2 separate regions of the Homo sapiens genome follow, and region 1 is linked to region 2. Evidence: fine-mapped expression QTL. A gene starts in region 2. The other region holds a variant in brackets. All regions are shown on one strand. Distances are from middle to middle. Region 1 overlaps TLE1 (TLE family member 1, transcriptional corepressor). Region 2 holds the start of TLE1 (TLE family member 1, transcriptional corepressor).

Region 1 (8,336 bases), 33 kb before region 2:
GCATGAGAATGTAACATAGAGCCGTGGATCACTAAAGTCTAACAACTACTGATATACTCAAAAGGCAGACAAATCTATTGTCATATCAGACAGACAAAGGTTATGGTGGAAGAGGCTGTTACAACAATAATGAGATGGTGACCATCCGGCATGGAGCAACAGGTGCCAACCAGGATACCCAGTATTCCAACTCCTAGTCCAATAAACTTTCCACCCTGCGTGAAGATGCATTCATCCCGTGCACACTTAGAACACGTTACAGCATTTACTAGCTTATATCCAGAAGGAAGGTAAACTTTTCAAGGCAAAGCTAAAATACAATAGTCTTGAGTCAGTTTCATAGATTACTCATATAAAGAGATTCCTCCCTCAAAGAATGTTAAGATTAAACCTCTATGACTTTGTAACTAAACAAAATAGCTTATACATACATATGACTCATTAAGTTAATGTATTTTGGACTATTATCATCCACCCCTTCAAGGACAGCATTAAGACAACTGCCTTGATACATAAGTACAAAAGAACTATCTGCCTCCATAGTAAAGTCTACCTTGATGGAACCATTTTTAAAAGTCAGTATGAGAACAGCTTTCTATTTAAAAGATATAAAAGACACCTGAATTTTCAGTAGCTCTCAAGCTTATGCTACTTAAAGCAAAAGCTGTACATTGGATAGTCATTTTGCAGTTTTCCACAGGAAAAAAAATTAATTTGGGGGTTGAGCTATTGTCACCATTTCTACAGTGTGCCCTCAGATGTGTTGGATAGACTAGCAGGGGGTTTACACACTTCAGCTGTAACAGATGTTCTTCACACTTGTTCCTTGTGATAAAATTAACATCTTAAAACTAGCTAATTTGCAAACAGAGAAGCAACATAATTGCACTTTAACAGCTGAACAATTTTACTTACTTCCTGAGACAGAAATGGGATGACTTGTGCACAAATCGTATTCAATCTCTTGGCGATTTCAGTCTATAAAGACAAAGCCACACAAATGTTTAGAATACTTCACAATCAGTTCAGAAAGGTAAAACTTCATACCCCTAACACTTCAGTCCTCCTCTCCCTTGCTCTGGAAATGTGTATAAAATGGTTTCCCCAGGTTATGTTACTAATACTTATCTTGAAATAAACAGTAGATATTAATCCCACTTGCAAAGTAAGCCACAACTGCACACTTCATTGTAATAAGAGATGAGTAGTTTGATTGAGTTGGAAAATCTAGGCGGTTTAAGGCTATATGATCATTTAATATGGTGACTATATATATATACACATATATATATGTATTTTTGAGACAGAGTCTTGCTCTGTCGCCCAGGCTGGAGTGCAGTGGCACGATCTCGGCTCACCACAAGCTCTGCCTCCCGGGTTCACACCCTTCTCCTGCCTCAGCCTCCCAAGTAGCTGGGACTACAGGCGCCCGCCACCACTCCCGGCTAATTTTTTTCTATTTTTAGTAGAGGTGGGGTTTCACCGTGTTAGCCAGGATGGTCTCGATCTCCTGACCTCGTGATCCGCCCGCCTCGGCCTCCCAAAGTGCTGGGATTACAGGCGTGAGCCACTGCACCCAGCCAAGTGTACTTTTTCAATGATGGCACACCATGACACATTTATGTCATTATTGCAAGTTCATTCAAGCGGGTGTCAGAAGCCACTGCAGCTGCAGCACTGTCAAAGCAGTCCACCTTTCAAAGATGAGGCCTAAGGTGATAGAGTAGAAGAAAGGCCTGCTGACCTCTTTGCCACTTGTCCCAGCTCTTGTACAACTGAAAAAGGATTTTATTGTTCATAGCTTCCCTAAGTCTCAAACTTTCAAACAAACCAAGAAAACATGACTAAAAACATTCCAGTCTAGAGGGTGATGGTCAAGTCATGATATCCTGAGTATTCGGAAAGTTTCGCCACAGTTCAGTAACAAACTCAAAGACCTCACCGACAGGGCCCAGGGGTCAGCTGAACATAATAAAAGGTGTCCTTAGTGTCTATAGCACGGGCTGTTTTAAAGAAGGCAGGAAAGGCCGGGTGCGGTGGCTCGCGCCTGTAATCCCAGCACTTTCTGAGGCCAAGGCATGTGGATTATGAGGTCAGGAGTTCAAGACCAGCCTAGCCAAGATGGTGAAACCCCGTCTCTACTCAAAATACAAAAATTAGCCGGGCGTGATGGTGGGCGCCTGTAATACCAGCTACTCGGGAGGCTGCGGCAGAGAACTGCTTGAACGAGGGAGGTGCAGGCTGCAGTGAGCCGAGATCACGCCACTGCACTCCAGCCTGTGCGACAGTGAGACTCCACCTCAAAAAATAAAAAAAATAAAGAAGGCTGGAAAAACCTTTGCTCCGCTCCACATCCACAGCAGTCCCTCTGCTACAAGGGACAAAAACTGGCAAGAGAGGGAACAGAGGGTACTCTACTTCTAGCCCAGGGAAGGGTCCACCTGCAGCACCTCCAACACCCTACAGCAATGCAAAGCAGCTCTGCTTTCCTCTACCTAGGAAGAACCAGTTCTGCTTTTTTAAAAAAGAAAAAAAAAGTCATCTGTAAAGAGGCCCATCCTTGACCTTACTTATTTCATCATTTTGTCAATGCTTACTAAATGCCACCTATATTACTGAATTAAGCAATGAAAAGGATCACAAGAAAAAAACTTAAAAGCACGCAGTCCATGACCTTGAGAAATAGAGAATGGAAAAAGACAAAGTAGAAATCCCAGGAACAAAGTCGAGCCTGCGGTGAGCTGAGATCGCGCCACTATACTCCAGCCAAGGCGACAGAGCAAGACCCTGTCTCAAAAAAAAAAAAAAAAAGAAAAGAAAAGAACAAAACCCCAGGAACTTTACAATCAAGCATATAAAAAACAGCAGCCTTGTATCTTCTAAGATGATCTGAATTAACTAAGCAAAGTCTTTGGTTTTATAAGATTGGATTTAGTCTGACCCAACCCAATTCTCCCTGACCACCAATGAGACAAGGTTACAGACAGACCATGCCTTGGACAAAATGTACTAGAAGGGGAAATGACTGGTAGAGAGAGGAAGCCCGTGCATGACCTTGCTTTAGCCAGCGAGGCAGATATATGCAAAAAGGGTGCAGCTGTACCAGGTACAAAAACAGAACTGGGTCAGCCCCACCCAGTTCATTTGATCACAGCCACCCACTCAAGCTACCTCAAGGTCATGGCTCTCCTC[G/A]AAAGCATGGGCAAGGCTTTCCTTTGCAACAGGGTTCTGCACTGTCTATTTGAGTGCATGTAAAGGAGTAGAGATGCCTTTGGTAGGTATCCTACTTAGGTCCTTGCTCCCAACTCCCTACCTACCACACATTCCTGCAACACTCTGTACATTCCTCTTCTCGGAAATTCACATTGAAGGTTTCCAGTTTTAAAAATGATATATGCTCACTTTGAACTCATACACATGCACACAGATACATATACAGAAATATAAAAGAAAGTTAAAATAACCCTGAGCCCATCATCCAAGGATAAGCATGGGTAACATATTGGTGATTTTAGGATACCATCATTCCAGGTTCTCACTTATGTGCACAGAAGCCCAGAGTGAGAGACACATTTTAATACCAAGGGGTTTCCGTTACATACCCTGCCTTTCTATAATTTGTTAATCAAACATGTGTCAGGGACACCATCCCAGTCAATACAGATTAACAAGTACCTTGAAACATTCCACCATACAAGCATATAGATGTCTAAGTACTATTGACACCAGTGAATATTTATGTTTCATTTAATTTTGCACAATTAACAACTCTGTCAAATACGCCTCCACACAGATCTCTAAAAGGAATCCCTAGATGTGAAACTGCTGGGTCAAAGTGTATGCATATTTTAAGTTGCAATGCATGCTGCCAAACTGCCCAGCAGAAAAGCTGTACCAATTATTGCGAGTTTAGGAGGGTTCCTGCTCTCCCACCCAGTGTCAATATTGAGTTTTGTTGACCTTCCTTTAATCTTCATCCATCTAATGGATTAAAAAATGACCTCATTTTTATTTGCATTACTTGAATTCTTCCTCTAGTTAAACATCTTTTCATGTATTTATTGCTCCACTCTATGTTTCCTTTCTCCATTCTTCCATTGTTGCTTAATCATTTTTGTCCTTTGGTGGTGCTTCCTTGAATGGGACAAATATTAACCCTTTATCAGAGTTTGCTCAGCTTGCCACTTGTCTTTCAACCTTGCTTAATATGATTTTTTTGCTGTATAGAACTTTAAGTCTTTATGTGGTCAAATGAAAGCATTTTCTTCCTATGCTCCTGGCCTTTAGGTAAAGATTAGAACACATCAATATCATAAAAGCCATTCTTACTTTTCTTCTAGTGTGCTATGGCTGCACTTTTTATGCTTAACTATTTAACTGGAATTTATTTTGGTTTAAGAAAAGATGCCCTCATCTTTAACTATGATAGCAACTATGTGTTACTACCTAGAATGGCATCAAAGTAGACTTGAACATGGTCGGAGGACAGTTAAGATCCAGTCTGAATGAAATGAACTTGTAAACCTTTAATAATATTAAAGTTATCAAAAATAAAATAAAGAAAAGAAAGACATATGAAAGCAAAGGCAATGAATACAGTGGTCTCTCGGTATCTGTGAGGGATTGGTTCAGAATCCCCCATGGAAACCAAAATCTAAGGATGCTCAAGTCCTTTATATAAAATGGTGTATTTGCATATAACCTATGCACATCTACCCATACACTTTAAATCATCTCCAGATTACTTAAAATACCTAATACAATGTAAATCCTAGGTAAATGGTTGTTGTATTATTTAGGAAATAATGACAAGAAAAAAGTCTGTACATGTTCACTACAGACATAATTTTTTTTTTTTTTTTTTTTTTTAAGACAGAGTCTCGCTCTGTCACCTAGGCTGGAGTGCAGTGGCACAGTCTTGGCTCACTGCAACCTCCACCTCCCGGGTTCTAAGGAACTCTCCTGCCTCAGCCTCCCAAGTAGCTGGGATTACAGGCACGTGCCACCATGCCCGGCTAATTTTTTGTATTTTTAGTAAAGACGGGGTTTCACCATGTAGAACAGGCTGATTTTAAACTCCTGACCTCAAGTGATCCACCTGCCTCAGCCTCCCAAAGTGCTAGGATTTATAATCCTAGCATGAGCCACTGTGCCTGGCCGATGCAATGTTTTTTAAAAAAAAGTATTTTCAAACCATGGTTAGCTGAATTCACAGATGCAGAACCCACAGATACAAAGGGCCGACTGTACTATGTAAGTTGGGTTAGACTGGATAAGCCTGAAACAGGAGGAGAAAAGTTAGAAATCAAAGCTCAAACTGATGAAAAACATCGAAAGCCATACCATATGTCCTGGAAATTCTACATAAATGGTCTGGAGAAGAAGCAAATAGGAGCAATAGAGGAGAGTCTTACCCAAGACTTCCCCTCCGTCTGCCAGGTCTCTAAACCCTAATCTTAAACTATACTGACAAGCCAGCTTGACTTTTGAGCCAGAAAATCTAAATCCAAGTCTTGGACTGTTCTATTAACAAGCTGGTTTACCCCAGAAAAGGCGCTGACGTCCTCTGAAATACCCTGGCTCCTTCACCTGCACAACCTACCTCCTGGCAGGTGAGGGTACACAGCTTACCCAACAATGCTCTGTGAGTCCTAAAACATCACTAGCTCTCCAAGAGGACTTCATGAACATCTTCCCTTCAAATAGTCTGGATTGCAGCAGCATACAAACTGGCAATAATTCTTAGTATTATCTCTTGCTTCAACAAAAGGGTATTCTGGTAAGATTCTTAATTTAGCACAAATTAACAAGTCTCGTAGTGACTTTATTTTATTTATGTATTTATTTATCTATTTATTTATTTTTTTTTTAGATGGAGTCTTGCTCTGTCACCAGGCTGGAGTACAGTGGAGCCATCTTAGCTCACTGCAACCTCCGACTCCCTGGTTAAAGCAATTCTCCTTCCTCAGCCTCGCGAGTAGCTGGGATGACAGGCACGCGCCACCACACCTGGCTAATTTTTCTATTTTTAGTAGAGATGGGGTTTCACCATGTTGGCCAGGATGGTCTCGATCTCCTGATCCTCGTGATCCGCCCACCTCAGCCTCCCAAAGTGGTGGGATTACAGGCGTGAGCCACCGCGCCTGGCCTCTCGTAGTGACTCCTGCCCATGCTTCTATTCTTGATTGGAGTGTGCTGGCAGGTTAACCTGGGTATTTGACCCTGCTGCCTTCCACCTCTTGCAAAGGCTAGACAACTCCAGTGAAAAACTGAGGGCTAACTGTATTTCCCACCTAGAAATAATTTTCCTACCCAATGATGAATACCTATTTGGTACCCACTAAGTCATAATGCTTATAAACTTTCCCTGTGCCTAGATTTTTTAATACTGTGTAAGGCAACAACAATAAATCTGCATTCAAGAGCTATCCACAAACCAAATCTGCATGAAACCCTCCACTCAGAAATGTAAGCAGCAGGATGAAGGCTCCAGCAACAAGACTTTCTTCATGGATGGCCACCACCTACTGAGGCAGGAGGAAGCAGGAGTCCAAATTACCTGTCTACAACAGTCTTTCATTCTCCTTACCTATGCCAACTCTCCTCACTGATTTGCATATGGTAATACAGTTAGCCCTCATCATCCAAAAATTAGGGTTTGCATCTTGGCAAACTACTGCTAGGGGTTCTATGTTAAATCACTTAAACCACTGGGTCCCAACCAGGTCTCGTACTTAACAGGATTACCACCAATCTACTTGAGAGTTTCATCAAAATCGAGTGAGCTGATGAGCTGGTATGTAAGGTATACTATTCCAAAGTGCTGTACAAATATGAGAGATCTTCCCAATCCCTCAAGGCCTGCCTCAAATTCACTGAGAAGCTGCCTTTCCCCCATAACGCCAATAAACGCACTCTTCTCTAGGCCCTTCAAGATCCTCCACAGCACTTACTGTCATTTGGTAAACTAAACCTATGTGCTTAAAAATCACCATGTCATACAAAGAAAGCTTCCATACAGTTTCTTAACAGCTTTCTACCTAAAAGCCTTCTCAACACAACAAGATGGGAAGCATTACGAGAACACGACTCCTACTAAATACTGTGACACATTTCTTTGCCGTACCTCCCCTACTAAAACTGATGCCAGGGTACATATTTAATATACTTTCAAAGTCATGCCTCAATGAACCAAAACTTAATCTCCATGCACCCCTAAATTCAATGGCCAAGGTGCAACCAGATAAACCATTACTAAACAGTGCTAGACAAAGGCTGTTCACAAAAAAAAAAAAACAAAATCATACGTTGGTAAGTATAAAATTCATGTACATGTATGGTTTTATTTTTTTATTTTATTATTATTATTTTTTGAGACAGAGTCTCGTTCTGTCGCCCAAGCTGGAGAGCAGTGGCGCGATCTCGGCTCACTGCAAGCTATGCCTCCTGGGTTCATGCCATTCTCCTGCCTCAGCCTCCTGAGTAGCTGGGACTACAGGTGCCTGCTACCACACCCGGCTAATTTTTTTTTGTATTTTTAGTAGAGACGGGGTTTCACTGTGTTAGCCAGGATGGTCTCCAACTCCTGACCTCGTGATTCGCCGGTCTCAGCCTCCCAAAGTGCTGGGATTACAGGCATGAGCCACCATGCCCAGCTACATGTATGTTTTAACTGAGCAGAAATACGGCCAAGGACCTCAGAGATCAGCAATCAATCAAACTCTAGTGTATTCTGCGACTTTTAAATTCAAGATATGGCCGGGCGTGGTGGCTCACGCCTGTAATCCCAGCACTTTGGGAGGCCGAGGCGGGAGGATCACGAGGTCAGGAGGTCAAGACCATTCTGGCTAACACGGTGAAACCCCATCCCTACTAAACACACACACACACACACACACACACACACACACACACACACACATTTAGCCTGGCGTGGTGGCACGTGCCTGTAGTTCCAGCTACTCAGAAGCCTGAGGCAGAATTGCTTGAACCTGGGAGGCAGAGGTTGCAGTGAGCTGAGATGGCGCCACTGCACTCCAGCCTGGCAGAGTGAGACTCGGTCTCAAAAATAAAAATAAATAAAAATAAATAAAAATAAAAAATACATATATATTTATATATATGTATTTTTATATATATATGTATTTTTATATATATATATATCTTTTTTTCAAGATATGGTCTTCTGAGTAGCTGAACTTAAGAGTTTAGGGTTCTATAATTCCTAAAACCACCTTTCCTACTTCTCATACTTTGTCTAACTGCAATACGGAAGAGCCCACTCCTCAGCGCCCGCACACTTCCCCACTACACATACAGTAGTGCATAATGAGTGC
Region 2 (8,336 bases):
GCTTACCTGTTTGTGCATTTCAATGTTTAATCCATATGACATTTCATAATACTGTAAAGAGAAAAAAGAATCAAGCATTTCATTAACTCATGTTTTTTACACTCTGCTAACACGTTTGCTAATATCATATGAAAAAGGAAAAAGTCCAATCTTTGATACCTACCATCACATAGTGCCTCTGCATTTCTGTCTTTTCACTTGCCAGTTTCTCACATTCCAATTTAAGGCTAGGAAAACAAAACAGGCAACTTAATGTAAACATTATGTCACTTGTTTTAACATCTGCCTCACATATTTGCACTTCAAGTAAAAACACAGACCAATTTGGAAAAGCCATAAACTATCTAGGTAAACACCCAAAAGCTTTGTCCTTGCATTTAATAGGGAAAAGGAATAATGTGAACAATACAAGGTGTCCATTCAGCTACCATTCTTCTTGGTGCCTATCTGGTTAGATGACAAGAATGAAAAAAATCTGTCAGAACCTCTAACTGATTCCTCCTCATGGTCATCTGCTCCCTACCTTCCTGCATCAGTTTGTTTCTCTGTACTCCACCAAAATCCGGCCCTTGCACAATCTTCACTCTTAGGCATAGGCTGTGCCATCTTTGCCAACTCAAACGGTCTCTAGGTTTGAAAATCCTATCTGTTAAGTTACTCCTACAATTGCTGGTCCCTTTCAAAACCTTTGGTTTTTAAATCCCTGCCAAAATATGTCAAGTAGCTACTGCAATAAAGTGGGTTGAAGTTCTCCCTGCTGGGTAAACACGGTGTGTGCAAGTATGCCTCAAGCTGCAGAGATATTATCTACAAGTAGACAAAAGGTCAATAATGAGAAAGCCCCTGACAAAGTAAGAAAATTCACACCCAAGCCACTTCGCCTCATCTGTGTGCTTTTTCTCAAGCATGACAAAAGCAAAAAATGTCAATACAGTTATTTCTGAGTTAGAATCAGGTAAAACTTCATAGGAACAAGGGAAAGAAACTAACCTTTCTGGGAAGTTCACTATTGGCAAAGTATTTTACAAAAATTTATAAGTCCTTTGAAGGTAAGTCTCATTACTTGAAGAAACTAAGGCTGAGATGGATATAAATGTGACTCCACTCTCTCATCCTACCCAAACCAATCCGAAATGACGCCAAAGCAGGTGAGCTTTCTTCTTTATACTATTATACCCACCTCCCTCACCATCACCAATGATGGGCAATGTTATAAGCATCTAGCCTTCCTTAATGGACTTTGCCTCAGAAAACCCAATTTTCTAGTATGGCAAACAGCGATTTCAACATGGCTTTGCTTCCCTGAACCCACACTCCAGGACTGAGACATCGATTGAACCAATGTTTCAGCTCAGTCTGCTGAAAAATAAATACATGAAGTGCAAATATTGACGATTCTCATGCAACTCCTAAAGACATGAAAAAGGACTCCCTGGAACAGTGCAAACCGGCAAAAGGGAAACAATGGGAGGAGGAGGAGACAAGAGAAGAGGCGGCCCGGGAAGAACCAGGAAAGGGGGTAACTTGAATGACAGGTCTTAACTGAGACTCCACACGCCACCGCCTGGACGCAAGAACTAAGTACAGGCGCCGCCGCCACCCGGCTGGGTGCAAGGGGCACCGGGACGCCCGCGACCACTCGCATGGCGCGGCCGGACACGCACCTGTGATACTGCGCCTGCAGGAACTGGAATTCCTCTTTAATCCGGTCCAGGGACTCCGGGATAGTGAACTTGAAGGGCTGGCCTGCAGCCTGGTGCGGCGTCTGGGGGCGACCAGCGAGGGGGACCGAGGGACGGGAATGCGGGCGGATGAATAAAGCAGTAAGTCAGAGAAGGCAAGAACGGGTGGGACATAAACATAAAGTTAGAAGTGGCTGAAAACGAGGCCCCAAACTCGAGTTTGCCCTTCACTATGGGGAGGGGGAAAGCGGACCCTCCCCGGGCCCCGGCTTCTAAAGAGGCTCGGAAGCTCTTCCCAGTCTCCAGGGCGGATTGCGCTAAGTGCGCCCGGGTCACCAGGCCAAAGGGAAGGGGGCTCCCCGGCGGCCAGGGAAGACCAGGCCAGATTGTCGGTGTCGCCGCCCCTTCCCCCACGGCGGCGATAATGACCCCGGGGACCAGAGGAGAAAAACAACTCCTTTACGCTCCCCATTCCCAGAGTCGCCGGGGCCACCTCCAGACGCACCGGAACCGGGGCCGCATTGACATGTAAATAGGCGAGAGGAGAAACAAAGGGGGGGGCGCCCTGCCCCCACTCGGGGAAGGTAGAGGGGATATGGCTGCAGGAGAGAAACCCCAGCCTTCCCCAGCGCCCCTGTCCGCTCGGTATAGACGTCAAGTAGGAAGGAGCCCAAAGGGAGGGAGAAAATTAAGAGTTTCGGCCCACTCCCCACCCCAGGAAGAGAGGGCCCCAGACCTCCCCAGCCTTACACCGCTGAGGGCGAGAAGGTCCGCCGGGCCTCAGAAGCCACCAGTCTCCCTACCGCCCGGGAGAAGCGCCTCCCCAACGATCCTGGCCCCCCACCACCACCCAGCCGCGCCTCACCGGGTGCCGGCTCTGCGGGAACATCGCTCTGGCGGCGGCCGGGGCTCTGTTCCCCGGCAACTCAATTCTCCGGTCAATTTCCAACTTTAATCCCGCCGAGGAAAATTAAGCCGGAAAGCCAAGCAGAAGCGGGGAGCGCGCTGGCCACGCACGCGCGCTCCGCCGGGCGCACCGGCCACTCGGCGCCCGCAGCTGCTCCGGCTCCCGCTCCCGTCGGTGCGGGCTCCGGCCCTCAGGGCCACATTAGTGGGCGCCCCAGGCCCAGCTGCTTCAAGAACCTGCGCGGAGACGTCGGGCGCTCGGGGACTGTGCGCGGGGGCAGCGCTCCAACCCCCGGCCTCAGCTGCCCGGGCGGGGAGGCGGGGGCGCGGTGACTCCGACCGCACTCCCCTCGGCGATCCGCGTGCGCGGCGCCAGTCCTGGGCAAACAAATCCAGACGGACTGCTTTTCTTTGCTCTTCTCCTGGTCCGCCTCCTCTTCGGGCTTTCCCCGAGGCGGCGGCGGGCGAGGTGCAGGTGGCGCGGCGGCCCCCGCTAACCCCACACAAACCCGACGCTTTCGGGGCGACTCCCGCAAGATTCGGCTGCGCCTTCGGCCGGGTGCTCGCAGGCTCCCGGGACGCAAAGGGGAGCGAGGTTGAAGACGCAGCGGAGGCTCCTGGCCGGGGAGCGACGGATGACGAGGCGGGGAAAGTGCGGAGGGCGCGCCGGGAGGCGGCTCGGCACGCCCCGTGCGACCAGCACTCGGTGTTCTCCGCGGTTGCACAAACCCTCCGGGCCCGACGGGGCTACTCCACCGAGAGCAGTCCCGCAAGTGCCCAATGCTCCTCGAGCCCGGGGAGCATCAGGGCGCCGCGCCTCGGGCGCACTCGCCCTGCACGGCCGGACCGGCCGCTCCGGACCCTTCTTCCGAGCTCCTTCTTCCTCGGTCTTCTTTCTTTCCTTCCTTCACCTTCGTGTGCTTCTCCGCAAAGGGCGCTCCAGCCCACTGCAAAGTTCTCTCACCACCCGAGGGACGACATCCACGAGATGGTGGGGAAAACAGCAGGAGTGCGCTCCGCCAATCGGCCACCCTCCCCGGCGGGCAAACTCTGCGGGCGAGTCCAGAGTAGTCACAGCGGTGGGGCCAGCGGGGGTTTTGGTCGCCGCGGGACGACGGAGGTCCGGGCTGGTGGCGCGGGTCCCGCCCGGCCGTGCGAGGGTGGGGTGGCGCAGTCGGCTGCCTCCGGGACGCGGGGCACAGAGTACCCGCCGCTGTTTCTGCTGCTGCTGCTTCTGCAGCCGCCGCTCCCACCGCCGCCGCCGCCCGCGCCTCTCGCGCCGCTTACATTAACACGCGGTTTCACACTCCGGAGCTAACCAGCGCCGGCCCCGCCCAGCCCCGTTCGGGCGGGGGGCGCGAGCGCGGAGCCGGCGGGGGACGTGAGCCCGGGAGGTTGGGGGGTGGGGGGGGGGCAGAAGGCCCGCATCAGCCAATCGCGTGCGCTGCAACCAACGTGGGGCGCTGACGCGCTCCTCCCCGGAGCGTATGGCAGCGCAGCGCCGGACGGGGCGTTCTCCCTCCCCCCCTCCTCTCGCTTCCATCTCCGCCGTCTCCTCGGTCTCCCTTCCCATCCCGGCCCCTCCTCCGCCAGCCGCGTCCTCCCGGGCTTGGTGAGGAACTGTTCCTGGAGGAGCCGCGGGACGCCAAAACCAGCCAATGGGAAGCGGCGATTCGCGGAGATTGGCACTGATGATGGGAAGGTCGGTGGGAAGGAGAGCGGCGGGGCTGGGCTGTCAATCAAAGTAACGTGGGGCTGGCTAGAGAGCGCGCGGGCGCGCGCTAGCGGGAGGGACTGGCGAGCGTGCAGCCGGGGAAGCTGAGGGCTCGAGTTAGCAAAAATCCTGCCACTTGCTCACTTTTCCCTTTAATGAAAATCCTCAGATCTAAGTGAAAGTAACTCAAAGACTAGCTGCGGAGTTTCTTATTGGAGGCGGAGGGGGGCTTTTGGTAATTCGAGCAAATGTGTTTTTCAGTGCTGGACCCCTTGTTTGATGCTACTCTAAAAGTGAGGCCACATTCAAAAATTTATCTGAGGTTTGTTTTTCCTTGAGCTGCCTTTTTACGGATGTACGAGAGGGAGTGGACTGTGCACTTAGTTGGAAATGCGTAAATGAGCAACGCCACGGTTGGCGTAGGTACACCAGCAAAGACGACTGTGATGTCCTCCCACCCCACCCACCCCCTTTGCACCCAAAGTGGTAGGATTTGATTTTTATTGCAGGATTTCAAGCCACTTTTCAAAAAGATCGTCCTGTCCCGTTTGGCGGGAAGGATTCCCAGGGTGCTGCCAGAACAAGGCACGCGTGTCCGCAGATGAGACGTTTTGCCCGGGGCGCGAAATCCCAGGTCTTCGTCTTAAAAGTCCTGACTTCGCTGTGTTGGGAGAGGTGGGGAGCGGCTGAGGTTTTTAGGAACTTCTCAGCTACAAGACTACGAGTCTGTTTCCAATTCCTGGGAACAAAGAGAGACAATGTAATAAACCAGCACTGAGACCTGAAAAACCTGTCCCGCACACCCCACCCCCACAGTCTGGGTGGTACTCCTGAGCTGAGCTGTGTGAAGAGCTAAATGGGAAGAGTTAGGTAAATGACGTGGCTAAGGTTCTTATGAAGTGGAACTTGAGTTAAAAGGGATTTTGAGATTGTAATAATCAAGACATGCTGTATAATTAATGCTGAGAGTCTTTGGTTTTTGTGTATGTCTCTAAATACACAGCAGAAAACCGTCAGTATTGCCGCATTTATGCTTTTGTTTGAGGAACATTTCCACATGAGCAGTGAATGAATAATGCTGGTTTAGCCAAACGGTGGTAACTTCTTCCATAAGGGCACATCTTGGACAAGTATTTATCTTATGTTGGAAACTAGTTAAGTTTTTGGTATTAATAACCCCCACGTTATTATTTTATTATTTTACCTTCAAGAGACTTACGGGAAGGAGCTTATTTAAACAGACATACATTTTATTTAAAGATGTGCTTTTACAGAGTTCTTTTTCTTGAAATAGTTTTAGAAGTCATTTTAGATAATACATTTCACTGTTGGAGTTGTTTTTAAATATGTATGATATTGATTTGTCTATAATTGCATCACTCCCAAATATCAATTATAAATGAAAAAATAAAAAAGCGATTTTAACCAGTCTGTACGAAGCCATAGTAAATTCTTAAACAAGTTGGGCATTGTAGCTTTGTGGTGTTCTCATTAAGTACAGTTGGGAAGGCGGCTGTATTATTCATTTTGCTAACATGGAGAACAAAAAAGAAGAAAGCACTGCCTCACTTTCCTTGGTTAAATTTGGTGACGATGACAGTTTTGCTCGACATACAGGACTTTTTGGAATCATAGGATCCCAGGGCCTTTAGCAACCTGTTTTCCTTGAAATTATCTAGTGATTGAGCCACATATACCAGTCTGCGGCCAGTTCATCCCATAATCAGCTCCAGGACCGGACAGAAAGTGCTTGGATGCCACAAGTATGCTTGTATACATGCTGTGACAACTGGAGCAACTGATATTCCTCCCCGGCTTACCCAGGCTTTATGTGGTGCCTGTATCTTGAATAACTGGCACACTCCCATTAAGTTTAAACAGAGCCATTAAAATATGCTTTGAGATGGGGCAAAAGTGTTGCTACTTCTCTTCTTTCCCCACCCCGCTGCCCTCAAAATCAGTACTAAGGCATCTTTAAATGTTCTCTAACATAACTACTCACAGACAATGTGTCTGCTCACCATATTTCCCAGTTTGCCATGAGTAAACACTAGAAATTCTCTTTTAACTAGTCTTTCCTTGCCAATAGAGTTTGAAACACCAGGCCTTCTGATTTCCTTATAATGAAGTATCTGTAGTATCTACAGAGCATTATGAATTTAAAATTGGAAGGCCTTTAATTGTGTGCATAAAAATGGTTGGTTTTGGTTTTTGAAGCCTTTTTTTCCCATTTAGAGCATCGTCTGTCAGAGTGGGAGAAGGCTCTGCCCTTTTCAAGGTCATATTTTCTCCACGATTGTCATGCTGTAATAATTATACTACAAAACTCTCATCAAACTGCATTACAAATGACGGCGTTTAAACAGTCAAGTAGCTTTAATCTTATGTTTTAAATAAATAATATATGTGCAGATTGCCTACAGCCTGTTTAAAAGAAAATAGTCCTCCTCATGAAATCTATAATTTTGGTCTTCCATTTAAAGCCTGTTAACCATAATCTTCTTTACCTTTAACATTCATATGTCAATGATGTTTTTATGTGAAATGTATGATGCTCCCACTGGAAATTTTCTCTGAAAAACACAGTACCCTTTTTATGCTCTGCAGAGAAACAGAAAGATTGTCAGCTTGTTCATTTTCTTTTGATGCATATGTGGGTATATTCCCATTCATTTGTTGCTGATTATCAAATTTTCAACTCAGCAATAGCCTAAGTAATTACAAAAGCTAGATGTTATCTAGTACAGATACTAAACAAAATAGGAAAAGTTATAGATGCTGATCGTAGCAACTAGACATCTTTTAAATCTATTACTTTTTTATTTGAAATAATAATTGTAATTTTTTAATTTTTTTTGGAGACGGAGTCTCACTCTGTCTCCCAGGCTGAAGTGCAGTGGTGCCATCTCAGCTCACTGCAACCTCTGCCTCTTGGGTTCGAGATTCTCCTGCCTCAGCCTCCCCAGTAGCTGGGACTACAGGCGTGTGCCACCACACCCGGCTAATTTTTATATTTTTAGTATAGACGGGGTTTCGCCTTGTTGGCCAGGCTGGTCTCAAACTCCTGACCTCGTGATCCGCCCTCCTCAGCCTCCCAAAGTGCTGGGATTACAGGCATGCACCACCACACCTGGCCAATAATTATAGTTTTTAACAGACCACTTTTGTTGTGTTCTCTTCCTTTTAGCTGAGAATTATTGCTCATACATTTCCTCATTTGACTTTTTTTTTTTTTTTGAGTCAGCATCTCGCTCTGTCACCCAAGCTGGAGTGCAGTGGTGCGATCTCAGCTCGTTGCAACCTCCGCCTCCGAGGTTCAAGCGATTCATGTGCCTCAGTCTCCTGAGCAGCTGGGATAACAGGCGTGTACCACCACGCCCGGCTAATTTTTGTATTTTTAGCGGAGACAGGGTTTCACCATGTTGGCCAGGCTGGTCTCGAACTTCTAACATCAGGTGATCCGACCGCCTTGGCCTCCCAAAGTGCCGGGATTACAAGCGTGAGCCACCCCGCCCCACCTTTTTTTTTTTTTAATTGATAGTTTTCTTAAACCTAAGAATGTAGGGTCCAGAAGAATTTTTCCCAGCATTTCTTGGTAATCTTTTTCTCCCCCACTCCTTTACCAAAGAAAAGGGCAAGATGGACGTGGAGGTGAAAGGAAGAACGCAGAGAAGGGAAAAAAAATCAGTAGCAGATCCATGCAGCAGTAAAACCTCAAATAAAATCACTTCCAAAGAATCTCTTGCGGTTTCACACAATATGGTAAAATTAGAGATTGCAGGAAACCAACTAAATTAAACTGGGAGCATTTGAAGAGAAATGAGCAGACTTTATGAAAATGACACATTGACTGACCAGTATGCTTTTTTATCAACAATTTCTTTGTTAAGACGAAGATCAAAGGAACCTGCATATGTTTTCATTTTGTTCTAACTAGAAAATTACATCCAGATGTTTAATAGGCATTTGGTTGGTTTTTCAGCATTGATTAGATATGTTGGTTCTGTTTGCTTACAAGTGCAGCCGGATCATTA

Evidence for each region.
Region 1: its variant is fine-mapped to the expression of TLE1 in whole blood (TOPMed, PIP above 0.99).

What each region holds. Positions count from the first base shown.
Region 1 is chr9:81,653,059-81,661,394 of GRCh38, forward strand. It overlaps TLE1 (TLE family member 1, transcriptional corepressor), which reads right to left. Exons shown (of 20, transcript NM_005077.5): 5 at 916-978. Among named protein-coding and RNA genes, the nearest start is that of TLE1, 32 kb to the right of the region's middle. The variant G/A (reference allele first, on the strand shown) is at 3,193.
Region 2 is chr9:81,685,670-81,694,005 of GRCh38, forward strand. It overlaps TLE1 (TLE family member 1, transcriptional corepressor), which reads right to left and starts at 3,878. Exons shown (of 20, transcript NM_005077.5): 1 at 2,548-3,878; 2 at 1,665-1,765; 3 at 164-227; 4 at 7-51. The coding sequence starts at 2,571. TLE1-DT (TLE1 divergent transcript) reads left to right here and starts at 4,044. Exons shown (of 4, transcript NR_109772.1): 1 at 4,044-4,290. RefSeq lists an enhancer at 3,189-3,903 and silencers at 3,776-4,125, 4,276-4,425.